Homo sapiens: one gene and its partners. The protein of the gene in region 3 purifies or fractionates together with the protein of the main gene of each other region. This does not show direct contact. Each region holds a gene or a part of one and is shown on either strand. Other genes may lie near its edges.

The links.
Region 1: the proteins of S100A13 (region 3) and THOC7 fractionate together in Homo sapiens (co-fractionation; one large-scale study listed by BioGRID). This does not show direct contact.
Region 2: the proteins of S100A13 (region 3) and LGALS9 purify together in Homo sapiens (co-immunoprecipitation; one large-scale study listed by IntAct). This does not show direct contact.
Region 4: the proteins of S100A13 (region 3) and CD244 purify together in Homo sapiens (co-immunoprecipitation; one large-scale study listed by IntAct). This does not show direct contact.

What each region holds. Positions count from the first base shown.
Region 1 is NC_000003.12:63,832,363-63,839,815, reverse strand, and holds the end of THOC7 (THO complex subunit 7), read left to right. Parts: intron 1-42; coding exon 43-160; intron 161-1,316; coding exon 1,317-1,444; intron 1,445-1,753; coding exon 1,754-1,840; intron 1,841-3,457; coding exon 3,458-3,515; intron 3,516-4,425; coding exon 4,426-4,492; intron 4,493-4,592; coding exon 4,593-4,662; intron 4,663-5,616; coding exon 5,617-5,684; 3' UTR 5,685-5,946; downstream 5,947-7,453. UniProt on the Homo sapiens protein: Component of the THO subcomplex of the TREX complex which is thought to couple mRNA transcription, processing and nuclear export, and which specifically associates with spliced mRNA and not with unspliced pre-mRNA.
Region 2 is NC_000017.11:27,635,329-27,643,063, forward strand, and holds part of LGALS9 (galectin-9), read left to right. Parts: intron 1-2,934; coding exon 2,935-3,026; intron 3,027-5,243; coding exon 5,244-5,445; intron 5,446-6,909; coding exon 6,910-7,020; intron 7,021-7,735. UniProt on the Homo sapiens protein: Binds galactosides. Has high affinity for the Forssman pentasaccharide. Ligand for HAVCR2/TIM3. Binding to HAVCR2 induces T-helper type 1 lymphocyte (Th1) death.
Region 3 is NC_000001.11:153,617,533-153,624,871, reverse strand, and holds the end of S100A13 (protein S100-A13), read left to right. Parts: intron 1-5,833; coding exon 5,834-5,977; 3' UTR 5,978-6,073; downstream 6,074-7,339. UniProt on the Homo sapiens protein: Plays a role in the export of proteins that lack a signal peptide and are secreted by an alternative pathway. Binds two calcium ions per subunit. Binds one copper ion. Binding of one copper ion does not interfere with calcium binding.
Region 4 is NC_000001.11:160,837,274-160,845,008, forward strand, and holds part of CD244 (natural killer cell receptor 2B4 isoform 1 precursor), read right to left. Parts: intron 4,629-7,735; coding exon 4,311-4,628; intron 4,228-4,310; coding exon of another isoform or gene 4,213-4,227; coding exon 3,937-4,212; intron 1,777-3,936; coding exon 1,666-1,776; intron 1,246-1,665; coding exon 1,178-1,245; intron 1-1,177. UniProt on the Homo sapiens protein: Heterophilic receptor of the signaling lymphocytic activation molecule (SLAM) family; its ligand is CD48.

The DNA of each region.
Region 1 (7,453 bases), on a different chromosome or scaffold from region 3:
TTACCAAGAGCCAGATGGTAACATTGCCCTTCTTTCCTGCAGACGAAGTTATACGGAAGCGTCTCCTCATTGATGGAGATGGTGCTGGAGATGATCGGAGAATTAATCTGCTAGTGAAGAGTTTCATTAAATGGTGCAACTCTGGGTCCCAGGAAGAGGGGTATTTCATTTTCACTGTTGTTTCCATACCAGTGTCCTAATGTGATTTTAGGCCCTATATTAAGGTCCTGTGAGTAGATCAAATTTTCACTCACCTTAAATGTACAGTGGAGTCAACTCTTAATTAACCAAGAGTAGATTTTCTTGGCCTTTTCTTCTCTTCAAAGGCCTCTCATATGTTTATTAAAACATGGAGAAGGCAGATTGGTAAGGAGAAATGAAGATTAAATTCAGACTCATTAGTTTGGTTACTTTTAGGACATAAGTGTTTAGTAAGATAAAATATCTAAATGGAATTTTCTCCTTTGCTAATAAAAGGCTGCTGCTATGTATGTATATATTAAGTTGGTGCAAAATTAATCGTGATTTCTGCCATTAACTTTAATGGCAGAAATGGCAGAAACCACGATTACTTTTGTACCAACCTGATACACACGCACACACGTATATCTAATCTTTTTTTTTGTGAGACAGAGTCTCATTCTGTTGTTCAGGCTGGAGTGCAATGGCACAATCTTGGCTCACTGCAACCTCCGCCCCCCAGGTTCAAGCAGTACTCGTGCCTCAACCTCCTGAGTAGCTGGGATTATAGGCATGCAACACCATGACTGACTAATTTTTGTATTTTAGTAGAGATGGGGTTTCACCATGTTGGCCAGGCTGGTGTCAAACTTCTAGCATTAAGTGATCTGCCCACCTTGGCTTCCCAAAATTCCAGAATTACAGGCATGAGCTACCACGCCTAACTATATTTATTTATTTTTTAACATAGCAAACTTTTTCTCATTTGAATTTGCTTTCCATATAAATAATTTTATAGAGTGAAAAAATTGTGGGAACAGAATTGTGAAGTTAAAAAAACATCTTAAAGTATTTCTAAAGTCTTTTAAACAAAATTCAAATAATTGTTTGAATAAAATGTGCATTGATAAGAACAACAATCCCACCTTTGCATTTGTAACTAAAGTAGTTAAATTCAAGAATACTACATTTGATAAAAAGAAAACTTAAGGGACAGATATTCTAAATTTTAAATAAGCAAATGATTCTCTCAGAACTTGCTATAATTTAATTAGCAAATATTTGTCTGCATTATAACAGTTCACTTTTGTCAGTCCACAAATATCTTTATTTTGGTTTTCTTTCTTTTTCATTAGATATAGCCAGTACCAACGTATGCTGAGCACGCTGTCTCAATGTGAATTTTCAATGGGCAAAACTTTACTAGTATATGATATGAATCTCAGAGAAATGGAAAATTATGAAAAAATTTACAAGGAAATAGGTAAAGAATCTTAATGTTTCTATCTGTAATTTTATTTTTTATGGTCTAAAGGAAACAATACCTGCTAACAATTTTCTTTGGTGGTAAAAGAATAATAACAATTACTGTATTAATGGAAAGAATACAGTAAATGTTAGCTATAAAAAATGTGTATTCTAAGATGATATAGTACTTTGGGTTACAGCTATTTTTTAAAAATACTAGTGTCTATTTTGTTACCAATAGAGGTTAATTTATAAATGCGTTTTAAAATTAAAAATGGATTATTGATTTTGTTACAACTATCTTTTAAAAAACCTTCTCATATAGAATGTAGCATAGCTGGAGCACATGAAAAAATTGCTGAGTGCAAAAAGCAAATTCTTCAAGCAAAACGAATACGAAAAAATCGCCAAGGTAAGGGTTTTGAGGGATTTAATGTGCAAATACATTATTACTGACTACAGTTTTCATGCAGTTTTTAATGTTGTGAGGTAAAATCTGCAGCCTGAATCAACCTGGATTAAAAAAAATCCAAATTTTAATTCCTTAAAACTATATTATTCTTTAAAATAGAGAAGGAAGTCTGTGTTGAGAAGAATGTTTTTGCTGGATTACATTGATTATCCAAGTATTTCTTTTCTGTTTTTCTCTTTTTTTTTCTTATCCCAGTATTTCTTAAGTATTAAATTTTTACCATCTTGGACCCTTTTGCCTAAATAATGTTATGGTTAATCAGCAGAGGCAATTTACATAAATATACTAGATTTATGGTTTGGGTTTTTTGTTTGTTTGTTTAATAGAGCTACTTTCCAAAAAATGAAATGGAAAAGAATTTAAACTCTGAGTTTTCATTAAGTACAAAGCAAGCAAACATTTCTAGACTGCCTAGAATATCTAATAAGAAGGTTAAAGTTGAGTTTTGTTATAATCTCTTGTTTTTAAGTTAGAGTATACCCTTATGTAGTTCCTAAATACTATTTCAAGATAATTTTTAATGTTAGAGGCACTGCTCTTCTTATAATGTAAATTGAAGAAAAGTAAAAATAAAAAATATAATGTGTAATCACAACTGTTACATTGATATGAAAAACTAGAAGAAAATAGAAAATGTTAATGGTTATTTTGAAGTTGTGGGTTTTTATGGCTTAGGTTCTTTTCTCTGTTTTTGTGTTGTTTTGTTTTGTTTTACATAGGGCATGTATTATTTTGTAATTCAAAAAATTTGTATCCAAAAGAATCATACTTTGAATTAATATGCTCAGTTCTAAAACAATGAATTTTCACTTTTTAATGAACTAATTAAGATGAAGCTTAATTTCCTCTTTTTACAAGTTTTTTTTTTCAGTTTAAAATGTGTATGGTGAAGTTTTGGTGCCTTATTTACAGTAACATATACCAACTTAGTATCAGTTCTAAAGTCATCTAAAAATATTTTGCAGTGTTTTCGTTGGTTAATGAGGCTTTTAAGTAAATCCTGCCACTCATCACTTCATAAGAAAGCTTAACAGGAGTTACATGACTTATCTTGGAGGTCTCAGTGGAGCAGAAAATAGAACCTGAATTTTAAGTTATTTGCAAGTTTCTGAAATCTTAACTTTTGGAATGAGTGAGAAGTGTAATTTGCTGTTGACTAACAACTCAGATTAATGGTAGGATATATTCACTGATTGTATTTTATTTTATTTTACTTTTTGGACAACTAGTGAGTAAGATCCTTCTCAGAATCAGTCTATTTGATAATCAATAATAACTTAAATTTGCTTATGCTTATGCTGACCTCTTACGTTCTGTCCAGGACATATAAATGGAAAAAAAGTGGGAGCTAAAACCCCTGTTTGGAACACTTTTGATGTTATGTATCGTTATAATTATAACTCAGTTAACTAAAACTGGCAATACTCATCTTTCAGTGATTTCATTTCTTGATGTACTAGGAAAGTGATTAGGAGAGGTTTGTGATATTACACATTTTGTTTTGATAATTCACATTCAAAAAATCCTTAGTTTGATAAATATTTTTATGTCTTACAGAATATGATGCTTTGGCAAAAGTGATTCAGCACCATCCAGACAGGCATGAGACATTAAAGTAAGTGTAGAGCTTTACTTTGAAAGGAACTAACCTTTATACATAAATGCTCGAAAACTACCGTAGGCATTTCATTTTTGCAGAAATAAATATGTTTCAAAAGGAGGGGTCAGATATTCAATATTATATTTTCCCATACTTCTCTGTTAGATTTTATTTTCCTCTAACCTTACCAGCTATATGTCTAAAATAAATGCATATAATATGCATCAATATCACAATGGATAAATAGAATATGGTCTTCATATATTAAAATATTGAATTTCAGTTAAAAAGAATAAACTAGTTATGCCCTTTTAAAACACAGCTCTCAAAACATAATCAGTGAAAAGACACATAATAAACTTTAAATTATATTTAAATTCCTGAAACACATACAGAATAATAACCATTTATAAAAGTTAGAACCCCCTTTCAAATATTATATACCAATACTGTGTATTATTCAGGGATACAAGTATATGCATAAAAAAGAATAAGAATGATATAGTAGTTGCCTGAGTGGGAGGTAGAGGAGATAAAAAGGCCCAGGATAGAGGACTAGGCGTAAGATTCAAAGGGTATTTCGAGTTAATTGGCAATGTTTTATTTCTTTTACCAAAATAAAAAACCCTCGAAGTTAAACTTCACAATATGTATCATTTCTTGGGTCTTGTTATTCTGTTATCTGTATTTTTCTGTACTTTAAAAATGGATCCAAAAATGTAATTTTAATGAAAGTGAGTCCATATTTAGAAGTTAAGAAGAAATCATCCTCAGCTTTAAAAGTTTCACCATAATGGAGTGTTATAACTCCTTATAAGCCCTTTTTTTATTTTAAAAATCCTATCTAGTAACTTAAAAGTTAGGCATTAATTGTAAACTCTTCTCCCCCATTCAGCAAAATGTAACACTGTTTTATTATTTCCAGGGAACTAGAGGCTCTGGGAAAAGAATTAGAGCATCTTTCACACATTAAAGAAAGTGTTGAAGATAAGGTATTCGCATATATATTTAGCCTTCATGATCTGTCTATCTGTCTGTCTATATATCTATATATACAGGTCATTTGTATAAATTTTTTTCTTGTTAACACAGCTGGAATTGAGACGGAAACAGTTTCATGTTCTTCTTAGTACCATCCATGAACTTCAGCAAACATTGGAAAGTAAGTAGAAATAGTCTCAAAGTAAATGCTTATGAAGATTTTTTAAATGACCCAGGGATGTACCTTTTGAAATATACATCTTGGAGAGACAGTATACCTTCAATTTCTGAACAGTGTAGCTGGATGACGTTAGAAGGTACTCATGTTCAACTTTCTTGAATACATGTAGAAAAGTCTTAATTTGTAGTAATATAGGATTTAAACATATACATAGTGGTTTAAATTAAGAAAAATTCAAGGATGATAGATTTGGAATCTTTCTTGGTTCACTGTAGTTGACTACTATAATATAACAACTCAGGACCCAGGCAGGCAATAATAAGAAATCAGTACATACGAACATTTGCATACCCACTGAGTAGTGGGTGCTTTGGGGAACTGGAGACTTGCTCTTTATATTCACTATAGGCAAGTGGAAATTTTTGTGTTACCTGATCTTCTGATTGTTTTAAAGAATAGCCTAAGACCCATTTTTTCTTTTCTTTTTTTTTTTTTTAAGACAGTCTTGCTCTGTCACCCAGGCTGGAGTGCAGTGGCACAATCTTGGCTCACTGCAATCCTCACCTTGCAGGCTCAAGTGATTCTCCTGCCTCAGCCTCCCTAGTAGCTGGAATTACAGGTGCATGCCACCACACCCAGCTAATTTTAGTATTTTTAGTAGAGACGGGGTTTTACCATGTAGGCCAGGCTGGTCTTGAATTCCTGACCTCAGGTGATCCACCTGCCTTGGCCTCCCAAAGTGCTGGGATTATAGGCATGAGCCACCAGACCCTGCCTGGATTTTTTTTTTTTTAAGTGAAGTCTATCACATAAATTTTAAAGTTTGATTCAACTAGTAGCCATCTTAGCTTTAATTGTATTGGCTAATAAAGGATAAACATGTTTTCATGTGTTCATCGAATATAAAATATAGGCAAACTTGACTAAGGTTTTATGTTTCCTTCTCAATTACAGATGATGAAAAACTCTCAGAGGTAGAAGAAGCTCAGGAAGCAAGCATGGAAACAGATCCTAAGCCATAGACAGGCTAATTGCCCACCACTCCCAGGAATATTGAAATAGCTACATGACCATAATGTGTTTAAAATGTGGTATGCTCTTGAGATATTTAAAGTTTTGGCAGTAAAATACTCTGTTTTTAAGTATGAATGTATTTCATTCATATTTCCTCTCACAAAGGAAAATGACTTCAGTATAGATTTGTTTTTATTAAAATGCATTTTTTATTCTTAAGTGGTAGGAAGCAACATCCAAAAATGCTTAATAAAATGCTTTTAAGCTGCATATGTTTGTGCTCATTAATATTCTAGGTAGTTTTTAACTGGTAACATTGATTGGCTTACAAAATAAGTTGAAAATTGTTAGAAGTTGGCATTTCTAGGATGTACATGGGAAAATGAGCCAATTTCTGGAAATGGTTACACTTCTGAAAACGGAGTCTATGAAGAGGCTTTAGGAGGACCATGAACCTGTGAAATTACATGCAAAATGTTAGTGGTGTATGCTTATTGTGGAGAGAGGTTCCAGGCTGTTAAAATTCGCTGGTATGGGACGTTAATTATAAGATGCAAAGTAAAATAGTGCACATTACTTTATATATCTCTCCTTAATATGAGAGGAATATGGTTCTCAAATGTTTTGTTGATCTGTTTTCTCTACTGTTTTGTTCTTTAGGAATCATTTTCAATAGAAAAAGATGTATTGATAAAGTGAAGAGTGTTTGAAGTAAATAGTTTGTTAAGATTGTTTTGCGTAGGCCAGGCATGGTGGCTCACACCTTTAATCCCAGCACTTTGGAAGGCCGAGGCGGGCAGATCACCTGAGGTCAGGAGTTCGAGACCAGCCTGACCAACATGGAGAAACCCCATCTCTACTAAAAAAAATACAAAATTAGCCAGGTGTGGTGGCACATGCCTATAATCCCAGCTACTCAGGAGGCTGAGGCAGGAGAATCACTTGAACCCAGGAGGCGAAGGTTGTGGTGAGCCAAGATTGCACCATTGCACTCCAGCCTGGGCAACAAGAGTGAAACTCTGTCTAAAAAAAAAAAAAAAAAGATTGTCTTGCATAAAGAATTTATAATCTTTTTAAAAATTAAGCTAAGGCGGAATCACTTGTAATTTTCTTAAGTATTTCATTATATGTGTAATACTTGTTCAGCTCCATCCTTATCCATTTATTTTAGTTCAGAAACATGACACTTTGCATGAATCATACCTTAATGATGTTACATTTTTGTAATTTTAATAATAATTTTTATCTTTAAAAATGAAAGTTTAAAATTAGCTCAGTTGTAGTCATATTAAAAGTGTCATAATACATATAAATGCTTCCTCTAATTTCATCTGGCAAGTCATGGGAGAAATTTCTTTGCAGAATTGCTATGCTGTGACAATCGTTTTTATTTTCCATTATTAGTAAGAATTATGAAACAAAAATTTGCCTATATTGACTCAGAATTAAAAATCCATTTTTCTTTTTTTTTCTTTTCTGAGACAGGGTCTTGCCCTGTCATCCAGGCTGGAGTGCAGTGGCTTGATCACAGCTCACTGTAGCCTTGACCTCCCAGGCTTAAGCAATTCTTCTATGTCAGCCTCCCGAGTAGCTGGGACTACAGGCAACACATCGCCATACTCAGCTAATTTTTAAAAATTTTTCGTAGTGACAGATTCTCACTATATTGCCCAAGCTGGTCTCAAACTCCTGGGTTCACGTGATCCACCCACGTTAGCCTCCCAAAGTGCTGGGAGTATAGATGTGAGCCACTGTGCCCCAGACAAATACCAGTTTT
Region 2 (7,735 bases), on a different chromosome or scaffold from region 3:
ATTCGGGAGGTTGAGGCGGGAGGATTACTTGAGCCAGGGGGTGGAGGCTGCAGTGAACCATGATCACAGCCCTCACTGAACTCCAGCCTGGGCAACAGAGTGAGAACCCATCTCTAAATAAATAAATAAATAAATAAATAAATAAATAAATAAATAAATAATCTTGTTTTTCCGAATTTTGGGGGCACTATTTAAGATATTTTGAAACCTCACAGAGCTTTTTTGGGGAACTTGTTGCCTTGGAGATTAGCCTGTCCTGTCCCGCCCCCATGATCTGTACTTCCTCTTTCTCCCTCCTGGCTTCCTTAATTAAGCCTTGTGTGTACTTGCCAGCCCATGTCCATCACGCTCTGCCTTCAATTCTAGATGCTGTGCTGTGAATACACTTAAGTGGAGGCCGCATGCTTCCCAGGAGGGTGTGTATTTTCAGTGTTGTGTCTCATGATAGTATGAAAGGCTCTGGAGAGAATCACAGGCTTCCACAAACAGGCAAGGAGAAAAATGTTCCACAGACATGTTTCAGGGAAAACAGGCTTCCCAATCCTAGGCCGTGCTGGTCCATAATTGGATCAGGCTGACTCTCCTTCCCCTACACTGCTGGTGTAGACAGGGACAAGAATGAGAAGTCAGAGACACAGAGAAGCTGTGATTTGCTTGAGGTCACTAAAGTACTTAATGGCAGAGTTCAGACCTGACCTGAGGGGCAACAAAAGACACCCCCCTCAAATCCATGGGGAGCAGAGTCTAACTGAATCAGATCCCAGATTTCCTGGGGCTCTCACGGTGCCAGGTGTGTACACTGAGCTAGGATGGGTTTCCCAGGGTTCTGTGTGGTCACACAACTCAACAATACAGACCAGAAAGCAGTGGCAAGTAGGCTGAATTTGGCTGGTGGGTGTTTTCTGTTTGGCCTGCACAGTGTTTCTTTTAACGTTTTATTATAGGAAATTCAAACATGCAGAAGGAATTGTACCATCAACAACACACACCCATCACTCTGCTCCAACAATGATCAACTCAGGCCTATCTTGCTTCATCCTATACCCTCCCTCGCTTGCTTCCTTCCCACCCTCAGATATGTGGAAGCAAATCCAAAGATACCATTCCATTTCAAATATTTCATTTTGTATCTCTATAATATGGGAATTTGGGGGGTTTCAAGACAGGATTTCACTTTGTTGCCCAGGCTGGAGTACAGTGGTGTGATCATGGCTCACTGCAGCCTCCACCTCCCAGGCTCAAGGGATCCTCCCACCTCAGCCTCCCAAGTAACTAGAGTTAAAGGTGTGCACCACCACACCTAGCTATTTTTTTTTTATTTTTTGTAGAGATGGGGGTCCCATTACGTTGTTCAGGCTGGCCTCAAACTCCTGGGCTCAAGTGATCCTTCTGCCTCAGCCTCCCAAAGTGCTGGGATTATAGATGTGAGCCACTGTGCCCAGCCAGGAGCTTTTACATAATCCTTTTTGACAAATTTTCCCCCAAGAAATTAGAAAGTTTTATAGAAAAAAAAAATCCGGACTTCTGTCTTCTCTTAAAAATTTGGAAGCTCTGCCAATACTGGGCCCAGATGGCAATCACTGCTTAGCACGGAGTAGATGTTGACTTTTCAGATGAGGGGTGTGACATCTACTTTGCCACAGTCCCCACCACTCCCCCACCTGGCCATCTCACCCATACACATCACCTGCCTGGCTCCTTTAGGCATTTAATTTGTGTAGGAAATTGACCTAAAGGAGATATTAGAGAAGACATTAAAAACTTGAAGAATGTGAAAATCAGCCAGGAGATAGAACTGTGCTTTAATGCGGGTTATAGAACGACATTGGATATGAAGCATTTTGGGAATAAACTTTGAAAATTGGAAGTACCAGTTTGTGAATTTTGCTGAGAGAGATGAAGGTGGGGGGTGGGTGACAGTGGTGAAGCATCTCCTATGTGCCAGTCTCTTTTACCACAGGCTGTTTCTCACAAAATCATCAATCATATGCAGCAGGTGAAACACCTTCCTATTTTACAGATGAGGAAACTGAGGCACAGAGAGGTGAAATAGGCTTCCCAAGGTCACTCAGGTCATGAGCAGCAGAGCTAGGATTCAGACCTGGAGTTGGCCTGACTCTAAAACGATGCATGCCTCACCATGGCCCATCACTCCTTTAAAGAGCACCAGAAGAGAGAATTTGACAAAGTGGTTGCCCGTGGGGCCTGGGATGGGTGGGGAAACCACGCTAGGCCTCGGGGCTGCTGAGGGCCTGAGGGAAGGAATGGGGAGCCCGGGCACAGAAATAGAGGAGGGGGCTGCCCCACGGCTACAGAAGGCATCTGGGAAGACGCTCTGCTGAAGGTGGCCAGGAGGGCAAAGGTCACAGTGGCCATTGTTATATGGTGGTGGTGGGGAGAGGGGGATGGCTTCTTCTTAACCTCCTCGGGTGAGTCGAAGGTTTACCCTCCAGACCCTTGATGGGTCCCTTTGGTCCCTTGGGCTTCCTGAGTCTCCAGCCAGGGCCTGGGACCTTTGCTGGGAGCTTAGCATGGGGTCCAGCAGCCCCCATTGCTACCTAATTCCTTAGCAGCCCAGGGTGTCTGCCTGCTACTTCCCTGCCTGGAAGGAAGGCCTTCTGCCTGGTGCATTCCTGCTGCAGCCTCCACTGCCTCTTAGACTCTCACACAAGCTCAGCTCCCTGTCGCGTCCTCTCAGGGCCAGGCTTCTCCTTATCACAAGCTTAGACTGTCTGAGTAACTAATTGGATTTGTGTTTGCCTCCACACAGGACCCTAAGACCCGTGGGGCTGCGACTCCCTCTGTACTGGTCACAGCCGCACCCTATCCCCTTGCATGGGGCTGTCAAACCCAGGCTGGCCACTGACTAGCGCTGGAGGGGAGCAAACGGGAGGCCGGCCACCTGACTGATGTTCCCACACCTTCTCCCTGCAGGCTGTCCCCTTTTCTGGGACTATTCAAGGAGGTCTCCAGGACGGACTTCAGATCACTGTCAATGGGACCGTTCTCAGCTCCAGTGGAACCAGGTGTGTGTGTATATGGATGGAAACGTTTCACTCCAGCCTCGTCCCTTAGTAAACCACTGTGCCTGTGAGCCTGGGTTAGTTCAAACAGCAACATCCAAGCTCACGTGCCTGGCTCAGGGGAGGCCCAATGCGTCCCTAACCCATGCCACAGGGCAGCACTCCACAGGCACAACCTGCACCCAGGGGTGCCATTAACCTGGACTCCAGGATGAATGGGGCCCTGGGAGCTGACGGTCTAAGGAGGGCGTGGGATGGTCAGAGTTGGATGATTATGTTCTGGGTTGAACCTTGCACACTGTGACTAAGAGTTGCAAAAATCAAACTTCCTCCATTTCCCGTAACTGCTCTCATCCACTCTGAAGCTCTCCTTCTGCTGATGTGAAAATATTGAAAATTGCCATCAAAAGTAATTTGGTCTCTTTTGGTTTCAAGGCCTTTTCTAGAAACTACTAAGTCAATTCAACATACTAACATTGTATCAGGGCTGTTTCCCACCCCCTCCTCCCTCCCAAGGTGGGCTGTCTGGGAACAGAGAAGAGCTCACATGGCTTCTCAGTGGCTGGGAGGGCTCTAGACCCTCACTCAGGCCTGGCTGACCCCTGCCGAGGCACCCCGACCGGGTGGCACAGAGGTGTGCAGCTCTCTCCTGGTTTAGTGGGGGACCATGGGTGGCTGCCTGCTGAACTCTGCGGGGCCCACAGAAGAGCCTCTGGACTCATGACTCTCTCTCGGAAGCCTCTCTGCCTCAGTCCCAGGGGACCTCTCCTTAAGACCTTCTGGGCCTCACAGATCCCAGCTAAACCTCAGCTTGGACACCTAGATTCTTGGTGACCTCCTCCGCCATTGCCATCCTGCTGTGGGACTTCTCTGAGAGACTGCGGTGCCCTCAGGAGATGCCAAGGGCAGGGAGGCCCCGATCTCCCTGAACCCTCCAACCAGGGGAATCAGGACCATGACCCTGATCTTCCGCCCCTTCCTCTCTCCCTCTCCCTCCACCTCCCCCACCCCCCAGCACCAGGAGGGCTTCCCACTCCCATCCTGTCATATAGAGACAGATCCTACCTCAGAGGGCCCTCTCCTCTTGGGAGCTTTCTGTCTCTCCCTTCCTTGGGGCAGGAATTTCGAAAGGACTACAGGGATGAAGCTGAAGGACTCCAAAGGAAAAAATACATGCAGATATATTTCAAATGCAATCTTCTCCATTTATTCATTTAATTAATTAATTTTTTTCTTTTGAGACAGGGACTTTCTTTCACCCAGCCTGGAGTTCAGTGGTATGATCATAGCTCACTGCAGCCTCAAATTCCTGGGCTTGAGTGATCCTCCCATCTCAGCCTCCGGAGCAGCTGGGACTACAGGAGTGCACTATGATGCCCAGCTAATTATTATTATTATTATTTTGAGATGGAGTCTCGCTCTGCCACCAGGCTGGAGTGCTGTGGCGCTATCTGGGCTCACTACAACCTCCGCCTCCTGGGTTCAAGTGATTCTCCTGCCTCAGCCTCCTGAGTAGCTGGGACTACAGGCTCATGCCACCATGCCTGGCTCATTTTTTGTATTTTTAGTCGAGACGGGGTTTTACCATGTTGGCCAGGATGGTCTCGAACTCCAGACCTCGTGATCCACATGCCTCAGCCTCCCAAAGTGCTGGGATTACAGGCGTGAGCCATCATGCCCAGCCAATTTTTTTTTTTTTAACTAGAGATGAGCTCTCACTATGTTGCCCAGGCTGGTCTCAAACTCCTGGGCTCAAGTGGTCCACCCGCCTTGGCCTCTGCGCCCAGCCCCAATTTCACATGCTCTTTACATTTGTTCTCTTCTTTCCCATTTAATCAGGCATGTGCTGGCCTCCAACAAGTGTCCACTGGCACAGAAGGCTCTCTCTTCTAGGTGTGCTTAACAACTTCCATCTTCGGTATCAATTGGTAATCACTTTCCAAGACCTATGTTTCTTGTTTGCTAATACCAGCACTTTTCCTTAACCGTTTTCTATTTGCTTTTAGCAAATCATGCTGTAAAGGCAAAATCCAATAATTAAAACAAAAACACATTAGATCCCAATTAGAAAAACAAAAACGATGCCAACAAAGCAGTCTCTGCCATACAGGTTGTGTGCAAGATCCAGACAAATGCAAAGCACAGGCGCCGAGGCCCTCCTGTGCCTGTCACTGGCAATAATCCATGCCACAGAAGACTATTTGCTTTCCCTGGGCCTAGGTTTGCTGTGAACTTTCAGACTGGCTTCAGTGGAAATGACATTGCCTTCCACTTCAACCCTCGGTTTGAAGATGGAGGGTACGTGGTGTGCAACACGAGGCAGAACGGAAGCTGGGGGCCCGAGGAGAGGAAGACACACATGCCTTTCCAGAAGGGGATGCCCTTTGACCTCTGCTTCCTGGTGCAGAGCTCAGATTTCAAGGTGAGCAAGAATCCCCTCCCCACCTCTCACCCCTGGGACCCCCAGCCCTATCAGGTGAATGGCCTTTAAGTAATCACCTAAATTGACATTCAGCCAGAGTGACACCACTATACAGATAACACGCTCATTTCCTTGTGAGGTGTTACCCATGGCTGCCTAGTCTCCTTATGCACCTTCATCTGAATCTACAGGTGCACCTGCTGCTTCTTTTACTCTGAAAATAAGAACTAGAGGAGTCATCACGTTGCTATTTGGTGTTGTGTGTCTTTGAATTCCAAGCTCATTCCATTCCTCTGCTATAGCCATTCCTCCTCTCCAGGTCACTGGTAACATTTATTTTTCAGCGACATCGTTCCAGCCTTTATCCAGGGTCTATTAAGGGTATAGTTTTGTAAGCACATTGCAAATTACCCTTGCAAGCAGAGTAGGTCTCTGGGCTTGAGAAGCCTGTGGGTAAGTCAGTCCAAGTATGCTTATCTGAGATAAGGATGTCCCCATTCGTTCAGTATGCAACCTGAGGTCACCTCTCCTCTGCTCCCCATGAGCATTTTATGCATATATAAATAATACCGCTGCAGCCATAAAAAGGAATGAGATCATGTCCTTTGCAGGAACATGGATGGAGCTGGAAGCCTTTATCCTTAAACTAACGCAGGAGCAGAAAACCAAACACCACATGTTCTTACTTATAAGTAGGAGCTGAACGATGAGAACACATGGACAAAATGGGGGGAAACAACACACCCTTGGGCCTGGTCGGAGAGGGAGAGCATCAGGAAGATTAGCTAATGGATGCTGGGCTTGATACCAAGGTGATGGGTTGATCTCTGCAGCAAACCACCATGGCACCCGTTTACCTAGTTAACAAATCTGCACATCCTGTACTTGCACCCTGGAACTTAAAATCAAAGTTGAAGGGGATGGAAATGGCAGATCACGCCTATAATCTCAGCACTTTGGGAGGCTGAGGAGGGCGGATCGCTTCAGGTCAGGAGTCCAAGACCAGCCTGGCCAACATGGTGAAACCCCATCTCTACTAAAAATACAAAAATTAGCTGGGTATGGTGGTGGGCTCCTGTAATCCCAGCTACTCGGGAGGCTGAGGCACGAGAATCACTTGACCCACTGCACTCCAGCCTGGGCGACAGACTGACATTCCATCTCAAAAAACAAAAAAAAACAGTTGAAGGAAAAATAAATAATTAATAAATGAAACCCCAGGTGAGCTAAGACTAGAAAGACAAACCTACTGCAGGAAACAACCAGAAGAACGAAAAGTCCAACTGGAGCCTGGTAGAGACTCGGGTTGATGCACTTTGGGTCACACACACGTTCCTGTAACTGGCCCCACACTGAAGACCAGACTCAGGTCTTCATTTTCTAGAAAGAGGGTCCAGGAGCTCAGGGGTGGTCCCCATCCCAGCCTGGGATGCCTCCCCCAGAACATGTGCTCTCCTCTGGCAGGTGATGGTGAACGGGATCCTCTTCGTGCAGTACTTCCACCGCGTGCCCTTCCACCGTGTGGACACCATCTCCGTCAATGGCTCTGTGCAGCTGTCCTACATCAGCTTCCAGGTCAGACTGTCCACCTGGCACCGGTCCCAGGGGCTGGGATGCAGGGCCCAGCGTAGCTGTGTCTAAGCCCTGCTGGGTGGGCCCAAGCCAATCTCCTACCCAGGTCACTCTGGGGACAACCTCTGCTTCCCTGTCCCAGTACCTGCCCGCCCCTTCTCCTCTGTCACTCTGCCCCTCCTTCTGTGTTACTGTCTCTGTCCGGAACACCTGCCTTGGTCTCCCAGACTCCTCAGCTGCCCCTTTCTCTTCATCCCTCAGTTTCCATCCTGGTAAGGAGGGCATATTGTTCTAGAAAGAGCCCAGGCTCAAGAACCAAACTGAATCCAGTTCAAATTCCCAGCTCTGCCATTCATCATCTGTGGGATCTTAGACAAGCAACTTCACCTCTCTCAGCCTTGGTTTCTTCATCTGTAGAATGGTCATTGCCTGCCCCCCATGGGTGGTTGTGTGGTTCAGTGAGGAGACAGATATCAGAGGTCACACAGTGGCCCCCCTGGGCCCACACCAGGGTCTGTTTGACCTCTGTGTTTTAACAACTTTGAATGTGTTGCCAACATCTAAAAGGTCAGGAGAGTCAGGTATGGTGGTGGAGGTCTGCAGTCCTGGCTACTCAAGAGGCTGAGGTGGGAGAATTGCTTGAGCCCAGGAATTAGAGTTCTGTCTGGGCAAAACAGCAAGACCCTGTCTCCAAAAAACTTTGTTTAAATAATAAAAT
Region 3 (7,339 bases):
AACTCCTGATCTCAGGTGATCCACCTGCCTCGGCCTCTCAAAGTGCTGGAATTACAGGCGTGAGCCACCGCGCCTGGCCTAATTTTTAAGTTACTTGTAGAGATGTGGTCTCTCTGTGTTTCCCAAGCTGGTCTCAAACTCTAGGCCTCAAGTGATCCTCCTGCATTGGCCTTCCAAAGTGTTGGGATTACAGTCATGAGCCACTGTGCCCAGCCAGACGTTTCCTTTTTCATCTTTTTTACTGGAAACTTCAGGTTCTCTCCTGAAGGGACAGCATTCCTTATATCCTTGTCAAGCAGTGATTGTGGTTTTTTTTTTTTTTTTCCTAAATTCAACTTCCTCTGGGCCTGGAAATGGAGGAAGTGACCTCTCTGCTTTCCATTATCTCTAGATTTTAGTTTCTTCTTCTTTCTAAGACTTCCCAGCGCCTTGGAAGATCATCTGCCACCTGCCATTCTTCTTATTGCGCTCCTTACAGCTCTTCAGCTCCTGGCTCACTGTTTTCTTCTCATCACTGCTTCTGTTGTTATTCTCAGTGGCTTCAGCATCCGCACAGACAATTCATCCAACATCTGGGCCTTTCAATTTTCTCAACTCCTCATTTCCAAAAAGATTTGTCTTCTTACATCTCAGCATCCCACTCCTCTGTTCATGCTTTAGACTGTGTCATTAACAAAATAACGCACAACTTCCAAAATCTTGATTTCAAGTTTCCCTTTATCTGCTGACCTCCTCCTGTCATTCCAGTTCTGTTCCCCTCTCTAGCTTCTCCACTTCAGCACTTCCCTGACTCCTCAGGTACCTTCAGTCTCTCGACCCTCTCACTTTTGCATCTTCCATCAACATCCCTCGGGTCCTCATTGCCCTTCCTCCTCACCTCAGGTTCTAAGGCTTCTAATTGTAATCACTGCCTTAACCCCGTTGATTCTGTCTCTCTCTGTTCTCAACCCAGTTAATCCACCATTTCACCTATAGTAACTTGCCAGTTAAATCCACTGTTCTGCACCTGCACTTGGATAGCTGAATCTGGCTGGAGAAAAATGCATAGCTTTGTTGACTTGTCTCACTTTAAATCTATAACCACAGACCCCAAAAGGGACCCTTGGCAATACCTGGCGGTTCTGTGTTTCCCTGGTTGATTCATTTACCAGTTCTTTCAGATAATTATTTCACAATTTGTCTTCTCTCCTCAAAGCTCAGTACATCTTTCCACGTTCTCCCTTTTCCTGAGAAGTTTACTCACTGAGAAGTTCAGGACTTCGAGACCAGCCTGGCCAACATAGTGAAACCCCATCTCTACTAAAAATATATTTAAAAAATTAGCTGGGCATGGTTGTGTGCGCCTGTAATCCCAGCTACTTGGGAGGCTGAAGCAGGAAAATTGCTTGAACCCAGGAGGCAGAGGTTGCAGGGAGCTGAGATTGCACCACTGCACTCCAGCCTGGGCAACAGAGGGAGACTGTCTCAAAGGAAAAAAAAAAAAAAGGAAACGAAAATAGGAGCAATCAGGAAACTTGTATGTGCTCCCTCCCCGAAATCAGCAGTCTTCTGTTATGCAAATGATACGTCACTGCCCCTAAGGCCAACCCTTCACTGGTGCCCTGGATCCCATCCCCTCTCACCCACTGCACTCCAGTCTGGGTGACCGACAGAGCGAGACTCCGTCTCAAAAAAAAAGACTTTCCTCTTGAAATTACTCCTCTCTTTCTTGTGTCCTCAAATTTTCCTTCTCCACTGTATCGTTCTTACCAGCTTACAACTGATACCTCTTTTTTTTTTTTTGAGACAGAGTCTCACTTTGTTGCCCAGGCTAGAGTGCAATGGCGTGATTACAGTTCACTGCAGCCTCTACCTCCTACGCTCAAGTGATCCTTCCACCTCAGCCTTCTGAGTAGCTGGGACTACAGGCATGTGCCACCATGTCTGGCTAATTTTTTAATTTTTTTGTAGAGACAGGGCCTCTGTACGTGTGCGTGCATGTAATTAGGTAAGCAAAGATACTGTGTGCCAGTGGGAGTATGGGCTTGTATCAGATGATGCTGTTGGGTTCTTGTGTATGTTCTGTGCTTTTCTGGTCTAATTTCCCCAAGACAGGACTGGACCCAGAGCTGGCTTCCAGGAGATTCACAGACCATCACAGCTGGAAGGAGGCCAAGAGAAAACACAGTCCCCATTCCTCACTTCACATATATGGAAACTGAGGCCTAATTTTTAAATGTTTTTGTAGAGGCAGGGCCTCATTATATTGCCCATGCTGGTCTTGAACTCCTAGGCTTAAGTGATCCTCCTGCCCTGGCCTCCCAAAGTGTTGGGATTACAGGCATGAGCCACTATGCCCAGCCCAATCCTTTATTGATGGAAATTTTTCTTATGTCCATTTCTTCCTTCTTGCAAATATCTGTTTGTATACCTACATACTGGTGGAAAAATAACAACATAAGGTAAATGTTTGGCAGTAGAAATATTAGGTTAAGTGGCATGTTCATTTTTAATTTGTTTTTGAGAAAGGATCTTGCTCTTTCACCCAGGCTGGAGTGCAGTGGCATGATCTCGGGTCACTGCAACCTCTGCCTCCCAGGTTCAAGCGATTTTCCTGGCTCAGCCTCCCTGAGTAGCTGGGACTACAGGCTTGTGCCACCACGCCTGGCTAATTTTTGTATTTTTAGTAGAGACGAGGTTTCGCCATGTTGGCCAGGCTGGTCTCGCACTCCTGACTTCAGATGATCTGCCTGCCTCGGCCTCCCAAAGTGCTGGGATTACAGGGGTGAGCCACCGAGACCAGCTTTCATTTTTAATTTTTGTGATTACCAATTTGCCTCCTAAAAAAGTTGTACCAGTTTATATGGCTACCCACACTTCATGCGATGCCTGTGTACTTGTCCAAACTGGGTGTTATTGAGCTTTTACTTTTTGCTAATCTATGATGTGAAAATGATATCTTTTTCTGATTTACGCTTATATAATTCTGAGTGAAATGGAACTTCAATTTTTTTTTTTTTTAATTTTTTTGAGACGAGGTCTCACTCTGTCACCCAGGCTGGGCTGGAGTGCAGTGGTGTGATCTCGGCTCACTGCAACCTCCACCTCTTGGGTTCGAGCGATTCTTGAACCGTGCATCACCATGCCTGGCTGATTTTTGCATTTTTAGTAGAGATGGGGTTTCTTTCTTTCTTTCTTTCTTTTTTTTTTTGAGCAGCAGCAAGATTTATTGCAAAGAGCGAAAGAACAAAGCTTCCACAGTGTGAGAGACCCGAGCGGGTTGCCCGAGATGGGGTTTCATCACGTTGGCCAGGCTGGTCTTGAACGCCTGACCTCGAGTTATCCACCCGCCTTGGCCTCCCAAAGTTCTGGGATTACAGGCATGAGCCACCATGCCCAGCCAGTAACATTTTATAATGTTAAAAAGAATCCTGTAGGCCGGGCGTGGTGGCTCATGCCTGTAATCCCAGACCTTTTGGAGGCTGAGGTGGGTGGATCACCTGAGGTCAGGAGTTTGAGACTAGCCTGGCAAACATGGTGAAACCCCATCTCTACTAAAAATAGAAAAATTAGCAAGGCGTGGTGGTGGGTGCCTATAATCCCAGCTCCTCGGGAGGCTGAGGCAGGAGAATTGCTTGAACCCAGAAGGTGGGGGTTGCAGTGAGCTGAGATCATACTACTGCACGCCAGCCTGGGCGACAGAGTAAGACTCCATCTCAAAAAAAAAAAAAAATCCTGTAGATAGTTTAATTGGGATCATATAAAAGATATATTTTAGGGAAAATCAACATTTTTAGCTGATTGAGCCTTTCTCTTTAAGAAAAATATATGTTTATTCCATTTTCTATTTATTCAAGGTTTTTTTTAATATCCCTGTGGTATAATATGAAATATATAGTTGTCATTTTGTATCCATGGGAATTGTTCCCAGAACCCCCTTGGATGCCAAAATCCTTGGATGCTCAATTACCTTTTTTTGTCCTTTTCTTGTAGAGATGGGTGTCTCACAATGTTGCCCTGGCTGGTCTTGAACTCCTGGGCTCAAGCGATCCTCTCACCTTGGCCTCCCCAAAGTGCTGAGATTGCAGGTGTGAGCCACCATGCCTGGCCTCAAATCCCTTATATAAAATCAGATAGTACTTGCATATAACCTATGCACATCCTCCTGTATACTTTAAATTACAAGTAACTCTAGGTTACTTGTAATACATAATGCAGTGCCTACTCATCACTTCATTCACATGGATTCAACTTAGTACTTAGCATGGGGCAAAATTTAAGTTTTGCTTTTTGGAACTTTGTGGATTTTTTTCTTCAAATATTTTTGGTTCTAGGTTGGTTGAATCCAGGGCTGTGGAACCCACTGATACTGGTATGGTATTTGGTATTTGGCCTTTGTTTTGTTTCTGTCACAGCTCTTTTTTTTTTTTTTTTTAGATAGTCTCACTCTGTCACCCAGGCTGGAGGGCAGTGGCTTGATCTCGGCTCACTACAGCCTCTGCCTCCCACACTCAAGCGATTCTTCTGATTCAGCCTCCCAAGTAGTTGGGACTACGGGTGTGCACTATCACACCGAGCTAATTTTTGTATTTTTTTTTCTTTTTTTGAGACAGAGTCCCACTCTGTAGCCCAGACTGGAGTGCAATGGCGCGATCTCTGCTCACCACAACCTCCGCCTCCCAGGTTCAAGCAATTCTCCTGTCTCAGCCTACCGAGTAGCTGGGATTACAGGCTCCCACCACCATATCTGGCTAATTTTTGTATTTTTAGTAGAGGCAGGGTTTCACCATGTTGGCCAGGCTGGTCTCAAACTCCTGACCTCAAGTGATCCGCCCACCTCAGCCTCCCAAAGCGTTGAGATTACAGGCGTGAGCCACCGCACCCTTCCTGCTTCTTCTTTCTTAATACTTATTTATTTCTCTTTACTGATTGAATGCACCCCCAATATAATGTTACAGTAGCCATCCTTGCCTTCCACTGGCAGTGCTTATAGTATTTTATAATTAAACGTGGTTGTAACTTAAAAAAAAGTCTTTTTTAGTTCTTCTGTGAATCAGCTTTGTTCCCTTTAGAGATTCAGTGAGTCTTCTCTGTCTGCATCCAAATGTTGGTTCAAACCTTGAGCCTCACACCCTGCCTGAGGCACCCTTCTCTGGTTTGATGTTGAACTATTGTTCAACAGTCAACTTTTTGGTTGTGCTTGTTTATCTGGCAACAGGTCCTTCGATCAGGACATCCAGTTTACTGTTGCCATTGATTTCACAGGCCTATGAGAGATACCCTGTCAAGGGCCCCTAAAAACCCAGATACTCCATGCCCTTGCCATTCCCCTGATCTAGTGACCCAGCTGGATAAATGAAAAGACACAAGGGTTGTGCAAATGAGCAGCTAAGTACTGGGAGCTTCTCCAGCTTTCTGAGAAAGAGGAGGGTGGCCCCAGAAGGCTCTGACTGGGTCCAACCCTGCAGCATCTCCCTGAGATGCTGGCATTCCTTGGGCCGATCCCACAGCAGCTGCAGTGGTGTGCTGGTGAGAGAAGATTGTGTGGATTTCTTTCCAGCTTTGTATTCAGCGACAACCTGTTTGTGGTTTGTAAGCAGCCATCGTGGAAGTATTTACACAACGGCAAGCACTAGGACTCAGGCCCCCCCACCTTTCTCTGCTGGTGCTCCTTGGAGAGGCACCCCGTGGCGGTGCAGTTTTGGGGCTGCAGCCTCCTTCTTTAGAGAAGGGGCAGGTGCCACTGCTCTCTGAGGGAAGGGCCTTGAGAGAATAGCAGCTGACAGTTCTTCCCTCCCTACTTTCTCAAGAACCCCAGTTTCTAACTCTACCCTTCCCTTTGGTGTCTCCTCAGGATGTGGGCTCTCTTGATGAGAAGATGAAGAGCTTGGATGTGAATCAGGACTCGGAGCTCAAGTTCAATGAGTACTGGAGATTGATTGGGGAGCTGGCCAAGGAAATCAGGAAGAAGAAAGACCTGAAGATCAGGAAGAAGTAAAGCCGCCTGGCTGAGATGGGGTGGGCAGGGCAGAGCTGATCAGGGCCGAGCAGAACCGCACTCTTCCCAAATAAAGCTTCCTCCTTGAAACACAAATGTTTCTTACTTACACCCCATCCTGATTTCTTTTCTTGAGACCAGAGAGTGGGAAAGCTCTCTCTTGACCTGAGGATGGATCTGAAAATTATGAGCCCCTTGAGGACAGGGAATGTTATTCATCTTTGAATTCCGCAGCATCTAGCACCAGGTCTTGTACAGAGCAGGTGCCCAATAAATGGTTGAATGAATATATGAAAAGTAGAGGCAGAGGGCTGGGCACAGTGGCTCACGCCTGTAATCCTAGCACTTTGGGAGGCTGAGGTGGGTGGATCACTTGAGGTCAGGAGTTCGAGACCAGCTTGGCCAACATGGCTAAACCTCATCTCTATTAAAAATACAAAAATTAGCTGGGCTGGTGCCTGTAATCCCAGCTACTCAGGAGGCTGAGGCAGGAGAATCACTTGAACCCAGGAGGAGGAGTTTGCAGTGAGCCGAGATCGCACCATTGCACTCCAGCCTGGGCGATAGGAGCAAAACTCCATCTCAAAAACAAAAAACAAAACAAAACAAAAAGAAAAAAGAAAAGTAGGGGCAGAGATGTGGGGCAGGAGAGGTGACTCGGGCTCAGCTGCATGGTCCTGCTCTGCTTCTTTTTTCTTGGAGTTTGTCCGTTGGATGACAATGATAGTGGTGAACAGGTATGGAGGGCTTACTAAGTACCAGGTGCAGTGCTAAACATTTTGCCTGTATTGTCTTAGTTAATTCTCACAGTCCTTTGAGGAAGGCACTATTTTTAACTCCTGTATTAAAGATCAGGACACAGATCTTAGTTAAAGTCATAAAGACAAGAATAGGTGGATTTCAGAGCTCTGATTAACCAGGATCCTCTCTGGCTGGGTGCTCAGGAACACTAGGGCCTCCTCCCCTTACCCTCTGGAGCAGTGGGGAAGCCAGAAGGAGGGGCCCGATGTTCTGCTCAAGGACCGTGGGGTGAGGGTGTGGTGGTGCCACCGGAGGCAGAACTTGCCTTGCCTTCCTGGCTTGAGGGGCATATGGTGTACACGGCCACCACCAGAGGGAGCAGGGGCGGGCATCTCGGTGACCAGCCTCCCAGGGCTGTCACTGCCTCACTGGCAGGCATCCATGCAGGGCAGCTATGAGTCCAGAGGAACCTTTAGGCTGAGGGAGCTCCCTGACCCTCCGTTAGAGAGCCCCAGACTGAGACCTCAGAGAGACTCCCAGACTGGGAATCCAAAGGGCCATTGGCAGAGACATTCAAGAGGGGCTCCTGCACTGAAGGGCTCCCTTACCGTGAGAAGCCCT
Region 4 (7,735 bases), 7.2 Mb from region 3:
TCCTAATCTCAAGTCATCTTCTTTTTGGAAAAATAGATTATTTTTAGCAAGCACCCGGGCATCACTGGCTGTGGGTAGATTCACATGCTTTCAGGAATTTGTACCAGAGTCTGGTAGCAGTGAGAGAAACAAAGTCCCCTTTTATTATTCACATTCCAATAGCCACTGCTTTATTTTTCACATTCCCATAGCCACTGCTGGGGCAAAAATAAATAAATAAATAAAGATAAAAATAAAAAAACAGGCATGGGGAGCTGCTCTAACAGCCTCTGAACCCAGAGGCATCTGGGAGAGGATGCTTGCCTGCTCTGCGAGGCTGCACAGGGCCTCACGTATGTGGCCAGCACGGAAGAGCCCCACCACATGTGCTTCCTGCGTGCTGCTGGGTCTCCACAGCAAAGCGCCAGGGGGCAGTGGAAAGAAGGCACTTCCGCCCCACTTCACCCACCCTGCCCCACTTCCTGCCAGCAGTTTGGTAGGCTCCATCAGAGCTTTTCCCCTGGGCCTGTCACCACATCTGCCCTAAGCGAGACACAGCAGTGGGGGCATCTGCAGGCCCTCTGCAATTTCCTCCTCTTCTAATTCTTGGATGACAGGCAGAGTTGGCCCCTGCCTGCTGCGAAGAGCAGGCGAGAGGCTCCTGGAGGAGCCTACTCAGGCTGGTGGGCTTTGTGCCAGGCTGGTTACTCTCTCTAGTACCTCAGCCACACTCAGGCCTCTTCTTCCAAAAGGCTGTGAATGCAGCCTATTGAGCCAGCTACAAAACTATTATGCTTTGGCTGGTCACACTTCCCAGCCTGTGTCACCATTAAGGGACTCATGAATGTAAGCCCTGACTCATTAGGAAAAAGAATTTGTGGTCAGACAACAAATACCACAGCAGCACTCTGCCTCTGTCATTGATTTCTGTTGTGCTCCATCCCTTCTCAGCAGGTGCAATTCTGCACCAAGATGCCCCTTCAGCCTCCCTTTCATCTCCTCTGCTCCTTTTGTTTCCTCTTTTCCTCCATCACCAGAACTAGGAAGCAGGTGGAGAAAAGATAGATGGGGAAGGGCTGAGGGTCACATCAAAAGGACAGTCGTTCAGTCCTTTTTGTCCCTCTGCTCTGAATAACCATCATTGAAAGAGCATTTTCCAAGCCAGCTGAGAGAGACCCCAGCCTCCGGGATGACATACGTGATTTCTCCTGGTTTTCAGATCCTTGACATCTTCGTAAATTGTCAAAAATTCCTTGGGACTGGTCTCTGAGGGAGGAAGAAAACAAAGAGCAGAGCTGCAGAAACCTCCAGAAGGGCTTTTGCTTCTAACAGGTCCCACCTCTACCCCAAATGGCCAAACCTTAAAAAAGGTTCTAGAAAGGAGGCAAGTTAATGCTCTTCCCAGGAACCCCAAAGAGCACAGAGGCAGCAACCGAACTGCCCCTCCCACACCTCCTCCCAAACCAGCTGTCTACAGGGAAATCTGCGCATTGGGATCAGAAGGCATGAACTGGGAGAGAGAGCCTAGCAACCTGCTTGCCCCCCGCCACCACGCACACAAACATACCAAAGCTCGTTGAGGAAAAGGAGATGCTGTGCTCCCAGACACATCCCACTGGACGCAGGACAAAGTCACAGGATCCAAGGCCTCAGGCAGGAGCACCACCCTAAGGACCTTCCACTCACCTGACTGCTTCTCCTTCCTCTTTCTCCTCCACACACAGAAGCAGGCAAGGGTGCCAAGGAACAGTGCGCTTAGAATCACGATGATCACCAAAAACGGCCAAAATCTGAATTCTGAGGAATACAGAAGGCGTGAGAACTGAGCTGTCAGCTCGCTCTCTTCTTCCTTCCCACCTGCCTGCTGCAGGGGCTGCCTCAAAACCCACTTTTCTCTGTGTTGTGGCTGATTGCCTCGTGCTCTGAGAACTCACGGTCAAGGTTTTCTCTTTGCTCATTTGGTTAACCTCCTCTGAGTGATGCCAAGAGCATAGATATATCAGACAGGCCTGGCTCAAATTCTAACCCTGTGAGCTCTGCACTATTTATTTAACCTCTCTGGGCCTCTCAAGTCATCTTATTTTTGGAAGATGCCTCAGAGCCTCTTAGATTTTCTCACCTGTAAAAGGGGATAACGTTATCTACCTATAGGGGTTAATTACATGATCTAATACAGTTGCCCTCCAAAGTTTTGAGTTCCACAATGTGGATTCAATGAATTGTGGATCCAGAATATTCAGGGAAAAAAAATGCATGTGTATTGAATATGTAGAGGCCTTTTTCCTTGTCATTATTCCCTAAACAATACAGTATAACAACTATTTAAATAGCATTTACATTGTATCAGGCATTATAACTAATTTAGAGGTGACTTAAGTAAGGTATACAGAAGGATGTGTGCATAGGTTATATGCAAAAACTGCACCTGTTTATGCCAGGGACTTAAACATTCGTGGATCTTGGCATCTGTGGTTGCGAGGTGGGTCCTGGAACTAATTCGTCATGGATACTGAGGGACATGTAGCACAACAAATGTTACATTTATCCATTCCTTTGTTTTTAACTCAAAAAATACTCATTGTACAGGCAAGTTTTCCGTCTCACTTTTCCACTATTCCTTCCTTCATGGCTCTTCCTCATTTGAACTTCTACTTAAAAGATTTGTGTCACACATGTAGCCTGATATATAATCCAGCCAACAAGAGGAAGGAAAAGGAATTAAGTGTTCCAAGGGCTGACAAGGCTCTTTGCAAACATTATCTCATTTACTCTTAACAGCAATCCTGTGAGGTACTTATTATCACCCCCATTTTACTCAAGGGGGGAAGAAAATTGAGGCTCAGAGAGGTTAATGAATCTGCCAGAGATCACAGAGCTTCTTTTTTTTTTTTTTTTAAATAGAGATGGGATTACACCATATTGTCCAGGCTGGTCTCAAACACCTGGACTCAAGTGATCCACCTGCCTCAGCCTCCCAAAGTGCTAGGATTACATGTGTGAGCCACCACACCTGACCTCTAAGAGATCACAGAGCTTCTGAATGATGAAGCCAGTGTCCTAGTTCAGTGGCATGATCTTGACTCACTGCAACCTCCGCCTCCTGGGTTCAAGCAATTCTCCTGCCTCAGCCTCCTGAGTAGCTGAGATTACAGGTGCCCGCCAACACGCCCAGCTAATTTTTTGTATTTTTAGTAGAGACAGGGTTTCACCATGTTGGCCAGGCTGGTCTCAAACTCCTGACCTTGTGATCCACCCACCTCAGCCTCCCAAAGTGCTGGGATTACAGGGAGCCACTGCGCCCGGCCTGCCTCAGTCTTGTTTCTTTTTTGTCCACAAGTAGTTATTTTTGTTGCCCCATTTGGCTATAAGTTCCTTATGAATGAGAGCTGTATGGTTTTTTTTTCCTATAATGCCCATGCTGCTGGTACATTAAGTCCCTGTTTATGTAATAAAAAGTTGTGGAACGGTAACTCAGGTAACTCTTAGGATGAGCATAAGCAACAGCCCAAGAACTCATCTAGGTATCCCTGGGGTCATCCTGATGCTCCTGCTCCAGGCTACTGCTGCACAGTGTAGTTACCTCTTGAACTATGTGGCTTGGAGAAAGTTATCACTCAAGAGGAGAGGACAGTTCTCCATCAGCCTCTCCCAGGAAGAAAATAATGTTCAGGAGCCATTTCAGGACTGTCACTCACCAAACAACTATGCCCTCCCTCTGCAGAAGAAAAGCTTGCATCTCCCAGAAGGAAATAGGGATAACATTTTTTTCCAGAGTAGGATAGGCCTAGCTTTACAGGAACTGTGTGCCTGGAGGCCAGGGCTACCCTGGGAAGGGCTACAAGGCACTGGGAGAGGAGGCCAAGGGATTTTATCTCATACCACATCTGTCTTGCACATGAGCCTGGTTGCGGGGTCCAAACCTTCAGCGCTTGTTATAGCCCAGTGTGTTCCACTTACCCTGATGGGCATTCTGACAGTCCTGAGTGAGATTCAGGGTGTGGCTTTCCCAGCTAACAGGATTGCTGACATTGCAGGTATATGTGTGAGTGCCATTAATGTCAACCTCCTCGTCCAGGTAGGTGAGGTTCCCTGCTGTCTGGATCAGCTTGCTCCCTCTGTACCAAGCATAGGACACATTGCCATCCCTGGAGACCAAGCAAGACAGAGCCACTTGGCATCTCCCTCTGTCCAGGATCTTCCCCTGCCCCTGTAGGCGGGGTTTCTCAACTTTATCTGGAAGCAGAGATTCTGATCAGAAAGGCATTGGAAATACAGAACTTAGAGGCCTATAGGAATCAGAGAGGGCAGTATGAACAGTCCTGGAGACTTACCAAATACAAAAACCTGGAACGTGGCTGTCTGAACTTTTCCAGATATACTGGTGACCTCCAGGCAGTAGAGGCCACTGTCCTGCTGCTGAGCTGCCTTGATGAGAAGACTCAAGTTCTTGACTATAAAACTGAATCTATCATTGGAAGTATTGGAAGGCAAAGAGCCATTCTCCCACTTCAATATGTGATGAAATCCATTTTGTGAGGGCAGCAACTTCTTCCATGCAATGCTGTCAACCTTCGTCTGTATGCTGTTTGGTTGTAACTGAAGAGGCACTCCCGAGATGCTAACCACATGGTCAGCTGATCCCTGGCATCCTAGGAAAGAGAACCCAAGCTGAAAGTAGCGGGAAGAGTGTCAGGCCTGAGCAATGTGGGCAGCTGGATGTGACTTCCCTTAAGCCAATTGGGTGGGGATGAGTATGAGGAGCCCAGAACCTAGGAGCACCTTAAAGCATATCCCCTCCATCTGCCTCCCCTTGTCCCCAAGCTCTGTGTCCCTAGTCTGAGGGATCCCATAGACCAATAGCTAAAATCTTGAGTACTTACTATGTGACAGGCAGGTTTCACACTTTATACATTTTAACTATTTAAGTTAAAAGGTATGATGAGTTAAAAGAATGATGAGCCTGAAACCTAGTCAGTTTGGTGTTATGTTTTTGTTTTCTTTTGTTTTGTTTTCTAGAGACAGGGTCTCACTCTGTCACCCAGGCTGGAGTGCAGTGGCGCAATCACAGCTCACTGCAGCCTTGAACTCCTGGGCTTGAGGTGATCCTCCCATCTCAACCTCCCTAGTAGCTGGGAGCACAGGTGCTAGGGAGCTTATTTGTTTACTCTTTGTAAAGACAGCAGTTTGGCTTGAGAGGATAAATTCTTAACCATGATGCTATAAATACCACATCTAAGGTGACTCCCTCCAAGCAGTGCTGAGGCAACTACTAATGGCAAGTAGTGACTGTTGGAAATTCTGAATGGTCAGGCCCAGGAAGACTAACCGTCCAAGCTGAACTCATGGCCCCTCAACCATCCTCTCACAGAGCTGAATACATAATCCTCTCTCGTGGCACTTGGTTCATTGGATTTTGGTCATTACTTATTGATGTTTGCCAGTTTTTCAGTGATCAGAAAGTCTCCACAAAAATTTCTCCCTAGAAAACAATTTTAAAAATAAAACTACACTTCCCAGGCAGATCCCAGCACTTGCCTCTCAAAGAATCAAGATGAAACCTAATGAATATGGGGGTGTGACAACCTAGAGCAATTCTGTGCAGTCAGTGTACAAAACTGGAAGTTCCTACAGCCATTTTTAGTAATAAAGCTATGTGGCATGGCCCAGCAGGTGCAGGAAATTAAAAAGTCTCTCTGGGTGAGTTGGGGAGGCTCAGGGAGGATTTGGAAGAGAAAATAAGAGATGGGGAGAGTTTTACAAGTGGCTCCGTTAAAATGGAGGCTATTAAGAAGAGAGCAATTGAGACAGAGGGGTTTTTATATGTCCAGTGCATTATGAATGCAGTCTCTCCAAGCCACAGCTTCACCCTGGCATTTTCTCAAGAGACTAAGTAAATAATTAAAGGACTTGTAATACTATTTGTTTGATGAAATATGTTTCTTTGATCTTGATGCTCCTAAGACTAAAACACATAGGTTCCCATTTATATTTATATGACTTGTACTGGCTCTGCCCATTAGCAAACCAAAAGCTTCTCAAAAGCAGAGACTGTGCTGTGCATCTCTGTGTCTCTGTCTCCTACGATCCTAGCACTATTTATAAGAACAAGTCAACCTACCAAATATTGCACAAAGACCCTGAGAACAAAGGTGAATGGAAAAAATCATTACTAAACCTACAAGGAGGACATATACTGTCTTCATCAATTATTCAGTCCTTACTGAGTCCCACTGCAATCCAGCCCCTGAAGAGGCAGGGCCTCTTCATGTATAAGGCATGATTCCTGACTCCAGAGAGTTTGTGATCTGGAAACAGAACACTTTCATTCTACAGCATCCCCTTAATTGTTGAGATAAAAAATCATCGAAGGAATTCTAATTATGTAATGAAAATCCAGGTTAAGACATGCTAACCAATCCTCCCACTAAAAATAGCTAGAAGAAAAATGAACAACATGTAAAAGCACATTGTTAAAGTTATCAGAGAGTTTATAAAGCAGTGAAAAATTATGGGGCCAATATCTGGAAGAAGGAAATTCAGAGAGGTGAGATCAGCATTTCTGACTGTTGTTCCCTGGAGGCATCTTCTGATTCCATAAATGGCAGCTAAAAGGCTGAGAAGCTGAGCAGAGCTCACAATAAAACTCAAGGAACTAAGAGAACATGAAGTTCACGTCCCTCCTATTAGAAAGCGGGTATACATAAAATCCATCAGTGTTGAGGTTGGTACCACAGAGGGCTATACCCAAAGAGTAAGAGTGAACGAGAAATGAACAGCCCTCACAGGAACTGAAGCTCAATTTTGAATCATCACAACCCTGGATTGAACTAATGATCTGGAATCTCTGGTAGCCCTAACCTGGCTGCCAACTAGAGGCAAATATAAGTTATGACTAGAGGAAAATAACATCAACCAGAGCATTAAATTATTCCTAGAATGTTTCATACACAATATCCAAAGTGAAGTATAAGAAAAGGAAACATCTCCAAAAACCAACAGAAGAATAGAGACAACAGAAACCAACAAACAGGGCATCTACATAATAGAGTTGTCAGTCATAAACTTTAAAGTAATCATGTCTAATATGTTCAAGGAAATAAAACATAAGTTTAAGAATTTCAGCAGAGAACTAGCGTGATAGAATGCAAAAATACCATGTCCTTGCAATGTGACTTTACAGCTCCTTCTGTTATCAAGAAATGGGGTTCATTTCCCTGTCTCTTGGAACTGGGCTGGTCTTCATGATGAAACGCAGCAAAAATGATGTTCTGCTAGTTCTAAGCCTAGATCTGAAAAGGCATTGCACATTTCTACTTGTTCTCTTGGAACCTCATCTGGCTGACCTGTGAACAAGCCTAAAATAGCCTGCTGGAGAATAAGATATCACATGATACAGAGATAAGCCAACACAGCTAAGGCCATTCTAAATCAGCTAGCCCTGGCCTGGTGCGGTGGCTCATGCCCGTAATTCCAGCACTTTGGGAGGCCAAGGCCGGCAGATCACTCAAGGTCGGGAGTTCGAGACCACCCTGGCCAACATGGTAAAACCTCGTCTCTACTAACGATACAAAAATTAGCCAGACATGGTGGCACACACTTGTAACCCCAGCTACTTGGGAGTCTGAGGCACGAGAACTGCTTGAACCCGGGAGATGGAGCTTGCAGTGAGCCGAGATATCATGCCACTGCACTCTAGCCTGCATGACAGAGCAAGACCTAATCTCAAAAAACAATAAAAAATAAATAAATGAATCAG